Linked DNA regions of Homo sapiens. The protein of the gene in region 3 interacts with the protein of the main gene of each other region in a pairwise test. Each region holds a gene or a part of one and is shown on either strand. Other genes may lie near its edges.

What was found. The genes of interacting proteins can lie anywhere in the genome.
Region 1: the proteins of GNE (region 3) and SPRY3 interact in binary tests that used the Homo sapiens proteins (3 or more experiments, as listed by UniProt).
Region 2: the proteins of GNE (region 3) and KRT83 interact in binary tests that used the Homo sapiens proteins (3 or more experiments, as listed by UniProt).

What each region holds. Positions count from the first base shown.
Region 1 is NC_000023.11:155,608,654-155,615,603, reverse strand, and holds the start of SPRY3 (protein sprouty homolog 3), read right to left. Parts: upstream 3,019-6,950; 5' UTR 2,957-3,018; intron 2,813-2,956; exon of another isoform or gene 2,652-2,812; intron 1-2,651. UniProt on the Homo sapiens protein: Inhibits neurite branching, arbor length and neurite complexity. Inhibits EGF-mediated p42/44 ERK signaling. Negatively regulates the MAPK cascade, resulting in a reduction of extracellular matrix protein accumulation.
Region 2 is NC_000012.12:52,313,783-52,318,412, forward strand, and holds the end of KRT83 (keratin, type II cuticular Hb3), read right to left. Parts: intron 4,189-4,630; coding exon 4,128-4,188; intron 3,995-4,127; coding exon 3,899-3,994; intron 3,242-3,898; coding exon 3,077-3,241; intron 2,812-3,076; coding exon 2,686-2,811; intron 2,332-2,685; coding exon 2,111-2,331; intron 1,562-2,110; coding exon 1,530-1,561; intron 1,037-1,529; coding exon 849-1,036; 3' UTR 519-848; downstream 1-518.
Region 3 is NC_000009.12:36,255,434-36,262,907, forward strand, and holds the start of GNE (bifunctional UDP-N-acetylglucosamine 2-epimerase/N-acetylmannosamine kinase), read right to left. Parts: upstream 3,016-7,474; 5' UTR 2,888-3,015; intron 1,487-2,887; exon of another isoform or gene 1,463-1,486; intron 1-1,462. UniProt on the Homo sapiens protein: Bifunctional enzyme that possesses both UDP-N-acetylglucosamine 2-epimerase and N-acetylmannosamine kinase activities, and serves as the initiator of the biosynthetic pathway leading to the production of N-acetylneuraminic acid (NeuAc), a critical precursor in the synthesis of sialic acids.

The DNA.
Region 1 (6,950 bases), on a different chromosome or scaffold from region 3:
CAAAGCTTCAGCCAAATTCAACATTGCACTGTGTCCAGAATATTTATTTTCTGGCTAAAAGTCACTACTTTTATAATAAATCTTCCTTCTTTAATTTTTTAACTCTTTCAAAGATCACTAGTAGTTCTTTTAAAGACCATCTTTGATAAATCGAAGTTCACAATCACAATTAACACATAGTTTTAACCACCTTTCAAGAACTCAAGGTTATGAATATGATTAGAGATCACTAAAGCTTCACTGAGAGGCTGATAAAACAAAGGTGTAGATGTTAGTCAAAGATGATGGCTCTCAGACATCATTTAATACAGTAGTCCATGCAAGAGATGGTGATAATTTGGCCTAGAGCAAGAGTCTAAAAATTATTGCCCACAGGGCAAATCCTGCCTCTTGCCTGTTTTTGTAAATAAACTTTTATTGGAACATACCTACACGCATTCATTTATGTATTGTCTGTGAATTCTTTCACTCTATGAAAGCAGAATTTAATACCTGGAGACAAAGACTGTATGTGACTCAAAAAGCCTAAAATATTTACCAGCTGACCCTTCACAGATAAAAAAAAAAAGCCAAACTCTGGTCCGGAATGTTAGCAGTACAGTGAGGGACAAATGCATGAGCAGATTATATTTTGGAAGCAGAACAAGAACAAGTTTGGTGTGTTCTAGGAACAGCTGGTGTGGCGGGAACATAAAAAGACCCAGATACTATTGTTTTTTTCTATTTTGTTTTCTAGCACATTTGTACCTATTGCTTTTATTCAGCTATTCATTCATTCCAAAAATATTAAGAAGTTCCACTCTGTGCCATACACCATGTGACCTGCTACACACACACACACAGAGAGAGGAAACAGTAAAATATCTGACTTTTATTTTATTACAAGTAAAATTTATATTTTATTAAAAGTAAAATATCCAGGCTCCCTAGAGTCTGGAGCCAAATTACCTAGGTTTGAATCTCAGCTCTGAAATTTATCTGCCATGTGATCCTGGTGAAAATTGCTTAACCTATCTGTGCCTCAGTTGCCTTATCCTTAAAGTAGAAATAATATCATCTACCTTAAGTGTTTGATATAAAACAAACACTTAGCCCAGTGTTTAGCATATAGTGCACATTTTATAAATGTTGGTTACTATTATTAAGGAAACTTGCTTCTTTTACTGACTCAAACAAACAGGTATTGTCTATCAACCTGTTGCCTTTTCTGAGTACTTTGTGTTGATTTCAGCTTAGCTTTAAGTGAGCTCATTCACTCTAATTGCTACAGTTATGATCTTCCTGTTACAGGACATTGGATCATGCTGTTCTTTCTGCCCAAAACTTTTTTTGTTTTCCCATTTGCCTGGCCAACTCCAATTTGTTCTTTAAACATAAGGGCATAAGGGCATGGACTATATCTGGGCTTTGTTTATCATTTTACACCCAGATCTTAGTACAGTGCCTGGCATACAGTAGGCACTCATTAATGTTTATTGCATGAATGAATACCAGCCAGACTAAATCTAGATTCTCATTGTACTTAGTTTTTCCTCTTTATGTTACATTCACACTCTGGATATGTCCTTTTGTTTACACACTGGTTCTAGAAATTTTTTAACAAATATTTATTAAATATATAGACATTTTAGACTCTGTGCTTGGAGAACAAATATGAAAAACACAAGTTTTCTGCTCTCAAGAAGCTACTTATTCATTAGAGGACAAAGACATGCAGAAAGAGAAATTATAATCTAGAGTAAGTGGTACTCTTGAGGCCTGTACGAGATCCATTGGGCATACTGGACCTAGGGAAAAAAAATATACAAACTTATCTGGGAAAGACAGGGAAGGCTTCACAGAGGAGGTGCTATCTAAATTGAGTCAAAAATAACGAGTAGCCGTTTTCCAAATAAACAAGTGCCGGGTAAGAGCATTCATGGCAGAAGGAATTCCAGGGCAAAGATGTGGAGGCTTTTTCTTCTTTTGTTGATCCTGACTTCTACAAACCAATTCCTTTATTGCTTTTTTGACATTAGATTAACACTTTTAATCTCGAATAAATATAATACTGCACAATTTCCCATTTTCAGTATATATGCATTTGATTTTTTTTGTTGTTCTTACTCTCATTTTTTAAATCTGCCTTGGATTTCCATTGCATATACTATTTCAGTATACTTTTTGGTCCTTCTTTGTAATATGTATCGTTCTTAAATTTTTACCTGCATAAGGTGTTCATTCCTAATGGGTATTCCCTTCTAGTGCTCACTGTATGTAGCACTGTATCTGGACCCTGGGTTCAAGATGCTCAGCTGAATCGATGGGAGTAATGAGCGGTATATGACTTCCATAAACTCAAGAAAATGGTGGAAAGGTAGTAGAATTTTACTTCTAGTAAACCTGGATAAACTACCATAAATAGAAGCGTAGTGGGAGGACTCGGGAGGAGCACTGAAATGGCAGGCAGGGGACCCAGGTTTTATAGCTTTATGGGCCTGTTTTTTCTCATCCCTGCACCTATAGCTTCAAGTATGTTCACTAAAGGCGATTGAATAGAGTGCCCCGGCCCAGTCCTTCCGAATGGGAGACTGACGCCCTAGCACCGGGCGAAGTCCCGGGCGCCAGAGGCACCCACCCTGCACGGCCGGAAGGAGTGGGGCGGGGCCTACAGGCTCTCCGCTGGGCCCGAGCGGGCTGGGGGAGGGGAGCGTGGGGCCGACAGTTTTGGGGGTGAAAAGGCAAAAGGCGGGTGAAAGGCTGCCTCCCGAGACTCTCCTTGCTTGGAATTCTGCCCACTCTGCGGAGTTAGCAGTCACGACCTCCAGCACAGGTGGGTTCCGTCCCGTGGGTCAGGGAAGGGGTGTCCCCATGGGTGCTACGGGTGGGTTTACCCAGGCGCTCGCTTTCAGGCCTGTCGCAGTGGGCGGCGGAGGCTCTCACCCGGGCTGCTGGGCCCAAGGGCGGTGGTACTCACCTTAACCCTGGCGGAGAGGAAGGCCACTCCTGCCTTGCCGCAGGGTTGTCGTCACGATCTGTGCCAGTTGCGCGACAGAGTCTGCCCGGAGATCAGCGTGAGGCCGGATGGGCCTAGCGCTCAGGAAGAGCTGGAAGAGCTGGAGCAAGCTCGCGTTGGGACTGACGCCCAGTGTACATTGTTTCAATCTCGGTCGGACTTTACAGCCCTGGATCTGTCACTGACTTGGTGTTTAGCTTTCAGCGAGTCCCTACCCTCTTCCTGCCTCACTTTGTTCGGCAGTAGAGTGGAAGGTGGAACTCAGCTGTCTGCAAGATCTTGCAGCACTTTCTTTCGTTCTCATATCCACTAATGTTCTCTGCCCAGATTTTACCCTTTGTCTGCCCCCTCTGGAGCAAGGCTCTGGGTAAGTAAGTTAGGCTAGGAAGTTTTCTTTCTCTTCCGAAAACAATGGAAAAGCCTTTAAATACTCCTGACTGCCCTGGAAACGACATTCAAACCATTAATTGAATGTCAACTCTGAAGAATGGGTTTGTGAATGCCATACTATTAAACGTTTTAACCAGATGATTGCCTAAAATGATGTGTGTTGAGTGGACATAGTACACTGCCTAGCAAAAGTCTCATGATAAATGAGTTGCGTGCTTTAACTCAGTCGCTGAAAGAAAAACTTGAGCTCTCATATTTAAGAAACACTTTCATAATCCACTCCCATACAGTAGTAGTCTTTTAGAGTTGCTTGTAGCTTGGTTTGCCCTTTCAGGACACACTGTAGTAAAAATTACATACAGTTTATTTTACATTAACTATAAAGACAAAGAAGGACTATAAACATTATGGATCAACATTTTGGTGTCAACTTCTGGTTTCTCCTCATTAAGGAACTGGTGGTAATGATAATGGTGAACATATATTTTGCAAAATACTATAATTTTCACAACAACCAGAAGACGTTAAGTAAGGTTATTTATAATAAGGCTTAAAAAACTTATACTTTATCTCATAACCAGTGTGATGAAGGGAATGTTTACTGGGGTGGTTGAGTCTGGGGGCTTGTTTAGTGTGCCCCACCTAGTTCTTTATTTCTTGGAAGCTTGGACTGGAACAGATCACTTCCTTGTTTTGGCCTCTGTTTCAGGAACCACCATTTGTTCTGTATTTCTGCTTGTCAACCCTGGGAACAACAGTAAAACCAGCCAAGTGGATCACTGGGTGTTTACAATGTTTCTGACAGCTGTATCTGATGCCTCCAGGGGCTGGGAGGGGGACCCCAGGATTAACAAACCTCTTTGGTGGGAAGAGTCTCTTCCTGCAAACTGAACACGGATCCATCAGTTGGGCACCACTGTGATCCCCTTTCTATAATACCAAGCATCCCCTGGGCTCATATGGGCTGTACATGCACCTGCCATTGCCCTGTGTAAAGATTTACAGGATAAGAGGCTCTTGAAAAAACCCAGCCTGCTCCATACCTGTAGGTTCTAGGGAAGGAGTGGCTGATATGTAGGTGAGTGTTCTTCTGGATGAGGAAAATACCTCATGATTTCCCAAATGGTTTGAAAGGTGAGAAAAAAATTATGCTGGATATCTGCTGAGCCAACCTGAAGGGTGAGTTTTGCATTGGCTATTTGGCAGGACCTGGTGTCTGCCTTGTTTAGCTATATTTTCACTCTATTCATCATACTCTGTTCATTCACTCCAAAGGCAATCAATGAATGTCAACTCTGTGCCAGGATGCTGATCCATTCACTGAGATTGGCAGCACAGGACAGCCAGTTCGGGAGGACAACAGGAATTCAACTTTAAGCATACTCAGTCTGAGGCCTCCTCACCTTTCCCCACTCCCTATATCTAACTGCTACAAAATCTTGTCACTTCTACATCCTGAATATTTTAAAAAATCCATCCACTTCTCTTTGTCCCATGACTACTCCAAATTTCAAGCCAGCAATATTCTTTTTTAATTGATTTAAAAATTTTTATTTTAAAAGACCAAATGGTTGCATGACCCTCGACTCTCATGGGAAAACCACAACCCACCACCACCACAGCAACAACAACAAACAGCCTAATGACCTCTGTATGATCCCTAATAAATTGTCAAAGTAAGGAGATGAAAGTTCTCTTTTTTTCTTGATGCTCACAGTGTTTAAATATTGTATTTAGGATAATTTACATGCCATAAAATTTGCATATTTAAAGTGATTTTATAAATTTATTGGGTGGTGCAACCATCACTACAATCTAATTTTAAAACATTTGCATCACGTCAGTGACATCTTCCTTGCCCATCTGCAGTCAGTCTTCATTACTACTCCCAGCATCAGACAACCACTAATCTACTTTCTGTGCCTATGGATTTGCCTATCCTGAAAATTTCATCTAAATAATGTCTCCAAAGTTTATTAATGTTGTGGCATATATAAATACTTCATTCCTTTTTATAGCTGAGTAATATTCCATTGCATCAGTATACTACATTTTGTCTATCTAGTCATCAGTTGATGAACACTTGGATTGTTTCTATCTTTTGGCTATTATGAATAAAGCTGCTATGAACGTTTGTGTGCAAGTTTTTGGGTGGACATTCGTTTTCAATTCTCTTGGTTAAACACCTATGAGTGGAATTACTTGGTCATATTATAACTGTATGTTTAATTTTCTGCCAAACTGTTTTCCCAAGGGGCTGTACTATTTTACAGTTACTAGATTTATATGAACCACCAGCAATGTATTTCTTCACATCATCACCATATTTGTTATTTCCCCGTTTTGTTTTGTTTTTTTCAAATGTGTAGCTATTCTTGAGGGTGTGGAGAAGTATCTCATTGTGATTTAGATTTGCATTTCCTTAATGGCTAATTGAGCATCTTTTTATTTGCTTGTTAGATATTTGTATATGTTCTTTGGAGAAATGTCTCCTCACATATTTTGCCCATTTCTGATTAGGTTGTTTGCTTCCTTACTATTGAGATGTAAGAGTTGCTTATATACAAGTCCTTTATCAGATATGTAGTTTGAAAATATTTTCTCCAAGTCTGTGGTTTGTCTTTTCATTTTCTTACTACTGTATGTTGAAGGGCAAAGGTTTTTATTTATTTTACTTTTATTTTAGTTTCAGAGGTATAGGGGCAGGTTGGTTCTATAGATAAATTGTGTGTCACAGGGGTGTGGCGTACATATTATTTCATCACACAGGCAATAAGCATAGTACCCAATAGATAGTTTTTTGATCCTCACCCTCCTCCCAATCTCCATCCTCAAGTAGGCCCCCGTGTCTATTGTCCCCTTCTTTGTGTCCATGTGTACTCAATATTAGCTCCCATTTATAAATGAGAACATGTGGTGTTTGGTTTTCTGTTCCTGTGTTACTTTGCTTAGAATAATGGCCTCCAACTCCATCCATGTTGTTGCCAAGGACATGATCTCATTCTTTTTGTGGCTGCATAGTATTCCATGGTGTATATGTACCAAATTTTCTTTATTCCATATACCACTGATGGGCATTTAGGTTGACTCCATGTCATTGCTGTTGTGAATAGTGTTGTAAGGAACATATGCATGCATGTGTCTTTATGGCAGAACGATTTATATTTCTTTGGGTATATACCCAATAATGGATGGCTGGGTCAAATGGTAGTTCTGTCTTAAGTTCTTTGAGGAATTGTCAAACTGCTTCCCACAGTGGCTGAACTAACTGACATTCCCACCAACAGTGTATAAGTGTTCCCTTTTCTTTGCACCATCGCCAACATCTGTTATTTTTGACTTTTTAGTAATAGCCATCCTGACTGGTGTAAGATGGTATTTCATTGTGGTTTTCATTGATTAGTGATGTTGAGCATTTTTTCATATGCTTGTTGACCACATGTATGTCTTCTTTTGAAAAGTGTCTGTTCATATCCTTTGCCCACTTTTTAATGAGGTTGTTTGGTTTTTGCTTGTTAATTTAAGTGCCTTATAGATTCTAGATATTAGAACTTTGTCAGATGCC
Region 2 (4,630 bases), on a different chromosome or scaffold from region 3:
TTGGTGGGCAGCATGAGGAGGATGTGGCAATGGGGTGGGGTCCAGACTGACACAGGGCAGCCCCCAAGGGTGGCTGCTGGCACTTTTGGTGGTTGTTGCTGTGGTACCTACGTGGAAGGATGGCTGGGGGGCAGAGTGAAGATATGCTAGGAAGAGAAAGTGGGGACCGTGTATGCAAGAAGGGGGCAAAACTCAAACACACACACAAGCACGCATACACGTGCACACATATAAACATGCGCATGCACATGCACTGCCTTCCGGCTGACTTCTGGCCTCCTCGGTCCCCTTCAGAGCCATCCAGACTGACAGGTGTGACAGGTAGAAGGTGCTGTGAGCACAGTCAGCACTGCCTGGCCAGGAGATGACAGAACCATCTGGGGACAAGGCCCTACGGGTGTCCAGGCGGAGAACAGGCCAGAACGACTCTAGTCTTCAGGCCATATCATCAGGCTGGGGTGCTCACCACTTGGTGGGTGTGGGGAACCCCAAGAAAGCAAGACATTGCAGCACACAAAGCAGGTCCCCAAGTTTATTGGAAAAGGGGAGACAAGAGGCCAGAGAGGCAGGGGGAACAGTCTCACAGTGCTTCTTCCAGGGAAGCAAGGCCCTTCTCCCCGGGAGGGGCTGAAGGCTGAGACAGGGGAAGGAATGGGTCTATTCCCCAGCCACAGGCCCCTTTCCAGTGGGATGAAAGGTGGGGAGGAGCCGCTGGTGGGAATGAGCCGATGGTGTATTCTCAGAACACAAGGGGAAAAGCCAGCGATGTGCTGCTGTTTTCAGCTGGTGGTGGGGCAGTGGCACGTCTGGCAGGCAGAAGGGGCTCCCCTGGCTCTCTTTTGGGCCACTTAATGCCTCCCCTGGCCGCAGGAGCCCCCTCCACAGGTGGTGTTCAGCTGGCCACAGGGCTTGCACAAACCAGTGCTCACCACCAGGTTCCCGTTGCAGGGGGCACTGCAGACGCTGCCCGTCACCGGCCGGGAGCCCGACACGCAGAGATCCCCGCACACAACCCCACCCCGGGAGCTGCTGACACCTGTGGGAACAAGGGCAGGGTCAAGAGACCCCTGCTGATGGCCATCCCATCCAGCCACCTTCCTTTGGTCTGTCTGATGTGTCGACCATCCAGGGAAGGATGCAAAGAGCCTCCAGTTCTATTCTGAAGGAGGGAACCCTAGCCTGGGAGCCAGCAGACCGGGGTTCTGGTCCTGGTTCTGCTTTGTGACTTTGGGAGTCCTTTCCTCTGTCTGGGCCTCAGCTTTCTCACCTATATAAGGTGAAGGTTATGAATGACATCTGAGGTCCCTTCTTGCAATGACATCTTATTATTTTTTCCCCTCCCCAACACATTCAGGCTGTGAGGTTCTTCCTGCGAGCTAACCTCAGTCTGTCTTGCTGCATGACCAACCTATCCTCTTTACTGGGGGAATTATTGGAAACACTCCTCCCAAAGTCTCTGCATATATTCATAGTCAAGAAGTCCTTTGTCCCCAGTCTACATTTTCCTTTTCAGGGCTCAAGATACTTACAGACATTCACAGCTTCAACACCTTCACACAGCCTGAGTGGGGAAAAAGTAAGGAAGGGGAAGATAAAAGAAGTCAGAATGAGGTCATCGAATTTCCGCTAGGTGCTGAAATGGGTCATCTCAGGGCTATTTCTGACCTACATTTATTCCCTTGTGCAGCTTAGAAAAAGTTGCCTTTCTGGCAGTTGAAGCAACGTCAGGTCACACTATTTAGCAAGTAGAGTATGGTTGGATTTCAATTCTTATTTGTCTCTCAGCTGTTATTTGCCTTTGTGCAGTGAACAACCTGAACAACCATATCTGTCAGGTCTAGATAGGCTCAACTTTCAGAAGGAGAAGGCCCTCTTGGGAAGACGAGGTCAGGGGTGGAGTTTGGCCAGCAACCCTGCCCTAGAATAGGTGATGTCCAAGAAACCAGGCAGGGTATGGATCTTGGAAGAGTTGAGAATGAGACAACTTGAAGATATGGATCTGGGATCCATAGAGGCAAGAATGTCACCTGGGGACTGAGACTGAGATAGGGAAAAATCAAAGGTGGGCAGGTCTATGCAAGTGGAGTGCTTAGGGCTGGGTTGGACCCACCTCTGCTCCTCGCCCTCCAGCAGGCGCCTGTAGGTGGCGATCTCGATATCCAGGCCTAGCTTGGAGTTCATCACCTCCTGGTACTCCCTGATCAGGCAGGCCATGTCTTGCTTGGCCTTCTGCAGGGCGCCCTCCAGCTCGGCCAGCTTGCAGCGGGCATCACTGAGGGCCGCCTCACCCTGCTGCTCAGACTGGGCCACCGCAGCTTCCAGCTTGGAGTTCTGGGAGGTAGGGGGAATATGGAGAGGATAAAGTGAAGTTTAGTTTCTTGAAATCCCAGCCAGTCTCCAATAGGATCATTCAACTTCTATCTTAAAATATTATCTCTCCAATCAGCTTCCTAACCTTCCTTCCCTCCTCACTTACACTACACACACACACACACACACACACCACACAGATACACACACACACCTTGGCCAAGACAATCAGAAATATTTCAGTAGATTTCTCATCTTACTCTGTCACCCATGAGACTGCACTGGGAAGACTTTTCCAGAATCTAACTCAAATCCCTCTGCCGAGGGCTAACCCCAGTCTCTTCCTACACTGAGGGGTGGGCCGGGCTCTGGTACCTGGCACTTGGCATTCTCCACCTCGGCTGTCAGCCTCTGGATCATGCGGTTCAGCTCGTTGATCTCCTCCTTGGTGCGGCGCAGGGTCTCCCCGTGCCTGATCACTGTGGCCTTCATCTCCTCACACTGCAGGAAGCAGAGATGTTCATGAGGCTCAGGATGAGACATCCCATTCATTCAGGACAGCTCAGATGATTGCACAGATTGTGCAGTGCTCGGCCTGTGCAACCACACGTGGCAGTCCTGCCCTGCCACCCCAACATGAGAGCTATTGGTTTTTCTCTTACCATCCTTAGGGATCAGAATCCCTAGACAAAGAAGCCTTTTCTACTAGATACCTCACATCCCTCCCACTGCCATGTCTAGCAGGCAGGTGTCCTGTGCCGCTCACCTTGCTGCGATACCAGGACTCGGCCTCAGCCCGGCTACGGGTGGCAATGTCATCATACTGTGCCTTGATCTCGGCAACGATGCAGTCCATGTTCAGGTCCCGGCTGTTGTCCAGCTTGACAACCACGGAGGTGTCTGAGATGTGGGATTGGAGAATGCGGATCTCCTGCAGGAGGTGGGGAAAGGAAGGACAACTCACTTATCTGGGCTTCTCCTAATCCCTGGATGCCTATCATCCTTTTGGCTCATCGGGAGTGAACTTCTCATGTTTAGAGAAACAAACCTGATGAAATCACATAACTTTCTGCACAAATAGGAAATCCCTTTAGAGGAAAACACAACCACTTCTCAACTGCTTGCTTTTGGAATTATTCAGGCCCATGTGCAGCCAGCATGGTCCAGATGCTTTCCAGGGGCTCAGACCCTGTATGGGGGGCCTCTTTCCATTCTCCTAGACCAACCCCATGTAGGAAGGCTATTGCTGCCAGAGAAAGCCCTGGGCCAGAGCAATGGGTTCAATTCTGTTTGATGCTGTGTGGGGTCTATGCTGCAGTCCACTGGCTCAGGGGAAGGATGCAGGGCAGGTTCCCAAGGCACAGGTGTCTGGGGTGCTCACTCTCCTGCCCCTTACTAAATTTGTTCCTTTTTGGCTTTCCATCCGTTTGCCTCCCTGTTCCTTCCCTCTCCTTGCTCCCTGCCAACCCTCCAGCCGTGAGCCTGGGTTCATATGTCAGCAGGCCTGGTTCATGCCTGTGGGTGTCTGGGCAGAGGGTCAGGGATCCCATGGGGGGATCTGTGCCCACCATGGTTGAGAGCCCCTCACCTCCTCGTACAGCCGCCTCAGGAAGTCAATCTCCTGGATCAGGGCCTCCACGTTGGCCTCCAGGTCTGACTTGCGGAGGTAGGCGCAGTCCACATCCTGGGTGGGGTAGAAGGGGCTGTGAGGCCGGCTTTCCTCAGAGGGCTCTGAGGACCTGGCTGCCATGTGGCAGGACAAAGAGGATGGGTGGCGGGACTCAGGGCGGGCTCAGGGCCAGCTGGGCTTCACTCACCTTCTTTAGAGCCACAAACTCGTTCTCTGCTGTGGCTCGAAGTGCTACTTCTTCTTCATACCTGAGGTGAGCAGGGAGAACAGGACCTTGTCTGAACAGCTCTTGATCTTGGCCATGAGCATATATGCAAAGGAGTCTCTTTCCTAGACCTCCCCCTGCTTGTCTCCTGCCCCCAAGTGAAATGGGTGGGGCTCTGCAGGAACCAGGCTGCTGGCCTGGGTACTACTGGGATGCACTGGAGAAATGAAGTGCCTACTCCCCTGTTTTTTTTTGTTTTTGTTTTTGAGATGGAGTCTCGCTCTGTCGCCCAGGTTGGAGCACAGTGGCGCGGTCTCGGCTCACTGCAAGCTCCGCCTCCCAGGTTCATGCCATTCTCCCCTCTCAGCCTCCCGAGTAGCTGGGACTACAGGTGCCCACCACCACGCCTGGCTAATTCACTCCCCTGTTTTGGTGGAGGTTGGGAGAGCAGGATCTGGAAGCTGAGTGTGTGAATGTGTGTGGTT
Region 3 (7,474 bases):
TGACCTCAAGTCATCTGCCTTGGCCTTGCCTCACAAAAATTAAAAATGTAAATTAAAAGCCACAAGAGGCTAAATAGCAAAAAGTCTTCTCATATGTGTTCCCCAGCTATATAATTCTTTTCCCTGAAAGAAACTATAGTACGAATTGGAAAAGGACCACTGCACTCCAGCCTGGGTGACAGAGTGAGACCCTATCTTTAAAAAATTAAAATTTAAATAAAAAAATAAAAACAAGCAATCTTTTAAATGAACATTATGAAGTAGGTGCATTGTCCAGCACAGAGCTCAGAAAGTCAGAAGGTGGGACTGAATACTTGCATCCATTTCACTCTTCAATTCTATAATTGTACCTGAGCCACCAAAAGAAAGACAGAAAAACAAATAATAGGTGACAGATGGATGGATGATAGATGTTAGACAGATAGATGATAGTTTTCGGACAAGTTTGCCTTCATCTTGAACTCACTGGCAATCGCTGAAAAACCCAATTCTTGTTTGTTTTTGTTTTTGAGACAGGGTCTCACTCTGTTGCCCAGGCTGGAGTGCAGTGACATGATCTCAGCTCACTGCAACCTCCACCTCCCAGGTTGAAGCGATTCTCCTGCCTCAGCCTCCCAAGTAGCTGGGATTACAGGCATGTGACACCATGCCCAGCTAATTTTTTTGTATTTTTAGTAGAGGTGGGGTTTCACCATGTTGGCCAGGCTGGTCTCGATCTCCTGACCTCAGGTGATCCGCCGCCTGGCCTCCCAAAGTGCTTGGATTACAGGCATGAGCCACCATACCCAGCCAGAGAAACCCAATTCTTTTTTTTTTTTTTTTTTTTTTTTTTTGAGACAGACAGCCTGTCGCCCAGGCTGGAGTGCAGTGGTGCAATCTCGGCTCACTGCAACCTCCGCTTCCTGGGTTCAAGCGATACTCCTATCTCAGCCTCCTGAGTAGCTGGGATCACAGGCGCCTGCCACCACATCGAGCTAATTTTTGTATTTTTAGTAGAGATGAGGTTTCATCATGTTGGCCAGGCTGGTCTTGAACTCCTGACCTCAGGTGATCCGCCTGCATTGGCCTCCCAAAGTGCTGGGATTACAAGCGTGAGCCACCACGCCCGGCAGAAACCCAAATTCTTAAAGACTACTTTCTGCATTCTCTCAACTCAAGACCGTCCATTATAAATGCTGACAAAAGGTGATTAACCCTTTCCAGAAAAATAATGCCCCACTCAACCGTGGAAAGAGTTCTTTGTGAAGAGAATATTTTTAAGGCTATCAAATAAAAATAATGAACACTTGGGTCAAGCAGTCACTGAACAGAGGAAACAACAGTAAACATTTGCTGAGCGCTTCTGAAGTGCCAAACATTGTGCTAATAGGTTTCTTCACATGTATTAACTCATTTCATCCTCACAGCCCTCGTATTAGCCGCGTTTTACAGACAGGAAGCACAGAGAAAATAATTTACTTGCCCCAAATCACTGTTTAATAGTTCATCATTGGCCAGGCGCGGTGGCTGACGCCTGTAACCCCAGCACTTTGGGAAGCCGAGATGGGCGGATCACTTGATGTCTGTTCAAGTCCAGCCTGACCAACATGGTGAAACCCCGTCTCTACTAAAAATACAAAAATTAACCGAGCATGGTGGCAGGCGCCTGTAATCCCAGCTACTTGGGAGGCTGAGGCAGGAGAATTACTTGAACCCAAGTTCATCATTGAGAGAACCGAAAATCAAACCCTTGTCTGAATGACTTCAGCGCTCAGAACACTGTCCCACACCCAGTGTTTGCCTTGTGTCTGTTCATTCCATAAACATCCATGAGTACAAATCTTCCTCGAAAACATGATAAATCGCCCTTTCATCAGTGCAATGAGGATGGGACTCAAAGGAATAAGAAGGAAAGAGCTATATAAAGCTGTCTGAAAGTCAGGGCCCCATTCCGACGCTATAATTCGGTTTGGCTTCAACTGCGGCGCTCCTACAGTTGGGTTAACGAGTTACCTATACTGCGAAACTGTACCCCACCCCTCCTACCAGAGTAGTAAAAAATACGTTCTTGTGTTCTAACAATTTTACAAGCGTAAAACTGGGGGGAGGGGCCGGGCGCGGTGGCTCACGCCTGTAATCCCAGCACTTTGGGAGGCCGAGGTGGGCGGATCACGAGGTCAGGAGATCGAGACCATCCTGGCTAACATGGTGAAACCCCGTCTCTACTAAAAATACAAAAAATTAGCCGGGCGTGGTGGTGGGCGCCTGTAGTCCCAGCTACTCGGGAGGCTGAGGCAGGAGAATGGCGTGAACCTGGGAGGCGGAGCTTGCAGTGAGCCGAGATCGCGCCACTGCACTCCAGCCTGGGCGACAGAGCGAGACTCAGTCTCAAAAAAAAAAAAAAAAAAAAAAAAAAAAAAAAAAATTGGGGTGAGGGCGGGGAATTAACGTTTCTCAAATATACAAGGAAGCCCAGACTCAGAATGTAGACTCAGAGCAGGGAGGGGACCTTTTAGCCCAGCCTTTTCACGCCAGGACAGCTCGCCTGCCAGGCAGTTCTCCACCCTCTCTCGCCCCGCCCCGCTCCTAACGGGACAGTCAGCATCCCCCCTGATTGGACAGCACTGTTCCAGGGGACAAGTCAACCTGGGCCTCCCTCTACATCCCCTCCCCTGCTCATCAGGGCCCACCCCGAGCCACACGGCGGAGCCCTGAATTGGGCCAAAGAGGTGCCCTATGGTGAGGCCTGCAGGACATTGGGCGAGAGCCGGGTCCAGTGTGGGCCTCGGGGCGCGGTGGGGTGGAAAGCGGCCGGGGAGGGGAGGCCTGGGGCAGGAGGCCGGGGGAGGCGGCCCTGGGGGTGGGCAGGATGCTCTCCCGGAGTCCCACGCCGCCGCGCGGCTCTCACCAGACGCCGTCAGAGGCTCCCTCCCACGCCGCCACCGCGCTCCTCGGGCGAGGGACGAACCAAGCGCCACGAAGCAGGCAGAGCGCGAGCCTGCCCCTCGGTTTCCGCGCTCGGGCGCGCGGGTAGACGACTCGTCGCTCGACCTTGTCCCCACTCCTCGCTCGCCCAGCCACGCCCACCCGGAGTGCCGAATCCGCGATCGCGCCCTGACGCCACCCGAGAGAGCTCGCGTGATTGGCTGCTCCCGTCCCCGTCCCCCACCTTCCCGGCGGTATTTTGAGGCGCAGGCAGGGTGCTGACCAGCGGACCATCTTCCATGGCCTCTGCCGCGCTGGAGCTGCTGCGGGGCTGTCCTGCCAGCTTGTGCTCCCGCCCCGAAGCGTCCTCCTCCACTGGCGACACACGCACTGAAGCCCGAGTCTTCCCGCTGGGTAGTTGTTTTGGTCTTGCACCCAAGGAGGGATTTCTTGCGCCTCTTGTTCCCTCAGTTATTTCATAAACCAGGACCGCAACTATACTGTCGTGTAGCGCGGCCACCCCACAGCGGTCCCTGACGTTAACCCTTGCCGTGACTGCTAGAAGACACTGGTGGAGTGTGAATTGATGACCAAGGCATGGCAGAGCCTCTCTCATCTTTATAATCAGTTCAGCGGCGGCCTCCACTACAGGGAACTCCCAGCCAGTCCCGAGGCCTAGGGACATCCAGGGAGAAACGTGGCGGTGGTAAAGGGCTTGCGCAGCTCCTGAAGATAAATAAGACTTTGGGTTGCTGTTGTTTTTGAGACAAGGGTCTCACTATGTTGTCCAGGCAGCACTCGAGCTCCTGGCCTCAAGCCATCTTTTCTGGCTTCAGCCTTCTGAGTAGCTGGGACTACAGGACCATGCCACCGAATCAGGCTTTAAGACTTTTTAATGACCCTTTCAAATTTCTGAGTCACTCCCAGCATTTTAGGAAGCCAAGTGAGAAGGCTAGCTTGAGGCCAGGAGTTCGAGACCAACCTGGGCAACAGATTCCTGAGTCACCATTGACAAGAAACTTTGAATGAAGTTGATGATACAAAATATTAACATCTTTTTTTTTTTACAACCATTAAAAATTTACCACAGGTGAAACTAAGTCTAACAGTTCATTGAGATTTCTTGCTGTACAGCAAATTTCAAATCTCATCAAACTGCAGTTTGTGATGCATTTCAATTAATAATGAAGCTCTAATTTGTAAAATACTTATGAACTCTTAGTTCTCCTGTGGCTAGCTTGGAGCCACGAAAAGGTCACATTAGCCACAAAAGAAAAGACATTAAGGGATTTTTGCAAGGAAGTGCTATCAGATTTCTTTTTTGTTTGTTTGTTTGTTTTTGAGACAGGGTCCCACTCTATCGCCCAGGCTGGAGTACAGTGGTACGATCTCAGCTCACTGAAACCTCCACCTCCCAGGTTCAAGCAATTCTCCTGCCTTAGCCTCCCGAGTAGCTGGGATTACAGGCACACACCACCATGCCCGGCTAATTTTTGTATTTTTAGTAGAGACGGGGGTTTCACCATGTTGGCCAGACTGGTCTCAAACTCCCGACCTTAGGTGATCCGCCCACTTTGGCCTCCCAAAGTGCTAGGATTACAGACATGAGCCACCACACCAGGCCCAGATTTCTTTTTTAAATCACACTGGCTGCTCTGTGGAGAATGGATTGGTAGCAGTGAAACTCAACTGAAGTGGATGGATATGATGTTTATTTTGGAAGTAAAATTGATGAGACTTAATTATAGGTTAGATATAAGGGGATGACAGGGAAAAAGACTCAAGAATGACCTCCGGGCCAGGTGTGGTGGCTCACACCTGCAGTCCCAGCACTTTGGAAGGCAGAGGTGGGAGGATCGCTTGTGCTCAGGAGTTCCAGGCAACAGTGAGCTCGATCAAACCACTGCACTCCAGCCTGGGTGCTGGATCGAGACCTCATCTCTTAAAAAAAAAAAAAAAAAGAAAGAAAGAAAGAAATGACTTCCAGGTTTCTGCCATTAGGAATTGGGTGGTTGGTTGTGTGCTAAGATGAGAAAGGCTGGGAGAGTGACCTGGTTTGGGAAGAAAAAAGTAAAGTTTTAATTTAGGGCATGTTATGATTGAGATGCCTGTGAGCCACATGAAGCTATTAAATGTGCAGTGAGATATATGAATCTGAAGACAGACTCACCAGACTATAAATGGTGTATTAGTTTCACATATGCTGTAACAAATTACCACAAAATTAGGGTCTTTAAAACAACACAAATTGGCCAGGCGCGGTGGCTCACGCCTGTAATCCTAGCACTTTGGGAGGCCGAGGCGGGCGGATCACAAGGTGAGGAGATCGAGACCATCCTGGCTAACATGGTGAAACCCCATCTCTACTAAAAATACAAAACATTAGCCGGGCGTGGTGGCGGGCGCCTGTAGTCCCAGCTACTCGGGAGGCTGAGGCAGGAGAATGGCGTGAACCTGGGAGGCGGAGCTTGCAGTGAGCCGAGATCGCACCACTGCACTCCAGCCTGGGCAACAGAGCGAGACTCTATCTCAAAAAAAAAAAAAAAAAAAAAAAAAAAAAAAACCCACAAATGTATTATCCTACAGTTTTGGACGTTAAGGATCCAAAATGGGTTTCAAGGGACCAAAATCAAGGTGTCAGTTGGGTTGCCTTCCTACTGGAGGCTGCCAGGGAGAATTCATTTTCTTCCCCCTTCCAGATTCTAGAGGCTGCCCACATTCCTTGGCACATGGCACCTCTGACTTCTGCCTCCCTTGCCACATCTTTTGTGACTCTACTGCCTTCCTCTCTCACTTAAAAAGACCCCGGTGATTACATTGGGTCCACTCAATAGTCCAAGATAATTTTCCCTCTCAAAGTCCTGGTCACATCTGCAAAGTCCCTCTTGCCAAGTAAGGAAACATGGTCACAGGTTCAGGGATTAAGATGTGGATATCTAGGCCAGGCACGGTGGCTCACTCCTGTAATCCCAGCACTTTGGGAGGCTGAGGTGGGCGGATCACGACGTCAGGAGATCGAGACCAGCCTGGCCAACATGGTGACACCCCGTCTCTACTAAAGCAAAATTAGCCGGGGATGGTGGCGCACGCCTGTAGTCCCGGCTACTTGGGAGGCCGAGGCAGGAGAATAAATGGAACCCAGGAGGCAGAGGTTGCAGTGAGCCGAGATCGTGCCACTGCACTCCAGCCTGGGCGACAGAGTGAGACTCCGTCTCAAAAAAAAAAAAAAAAAGATGTGGATATCTTTGGGGAGCTATTTATTCTGCCTACCACAAGAGGTATTGAAAGTCACTTGAAGTCAGGTCAGGCGTGGTGGCTCAAGCTTGTAATCCCAGCACTTTGGGAGGCCGAGGCGGGTGGATCACGAGGTCAGGAGATCAAGACCATCCTGGCGAACACTTGTGAAAACCCGTCTCTACTAAAAATACAAAAAAAATTAGCCGAGTGTGGTGGCAGGCGCCTGTAGTCCCAGCTACGCGGGAGGCTGAGGCAGGAGAATGGCGTGAACCCGGGAGGCGGAGCTTGCAGTGAGCGGAGATCGCGCCACTGCACTCCAGCCTGGGCAACAGAGCGAGACTCAATCTCAAAAAAAAAAAAAAAAGAAAGTCACTTGAAGTCAAGATGGGTATGTTGCTTTTAAAGTTACATAGTGTACCTCCAAATATGCAGAATAGAACGTTAAATTTTTCTTCCTGAAAGGTAAGAAAAATTAACTTCAAAAACAATTTAAAATCTGGGTGCTGATTACATAGGTGTGTTTAGTTTGTAAAAACTCAAATTATATACGTAATATATATGTACCTTTTATGTGTATTTTACTGTAATGTGTTTTAAAAATAATGCTTAATATAGCTAGAAAAATATAACTATAAATATAAATACCTTTAACGGTAGGGAATACATTTTGAGAATTGTATGCACTTTCTAAGCCACCTGCAAGTTTTGTGTTTGACCAACACTGAGAATTTTATATTTCCATAATCATTTAACCTTAAATGAAATAATCTTTTTAGAATTTTCTTCTCTGCTTTCTTGAGATCAAATTGCAGCAAGGACCCTTAGGAGGCATTTTCTCTTGGCTTTTTGAGATCACTTTCCTATGGGTAAATAATATTACATTTCTGGATTTCTGTTACTTTACTGTTTAACATTGTGAATTGACATACCAAAAATCGTCACTAGTTAAGTTTGGTTTGTATGATTTGGTTTCATTTGACTTTAGTCTGAGAACTCTACAAGTTGCAAAAAAATTACTTATGGCTTTGTAGTATAATAAAATCAGATTTTTCTAGAGATTACTCCATAAGCATAAATATAACTTCAAGCATTCAGGGCATAACTAGGCTATCAATGACTCCTAGGCTTTAAGAGATCCTCTAATCTAACCTTCTCATCAGAGTGGGAGACCTTCCTACAGCACCCCTGACAGATGCTTATCTGGCCACTTTGGGAACATTTCTTGTAACAGACTTGTCTTATTTTATTTGGTGATTTAATTATTTTAAAGTACTCTGCCTCTCTGTAAATTCTACCCGTGTATTTCGTAGCCTAAACATTTCTAAACTAAAAT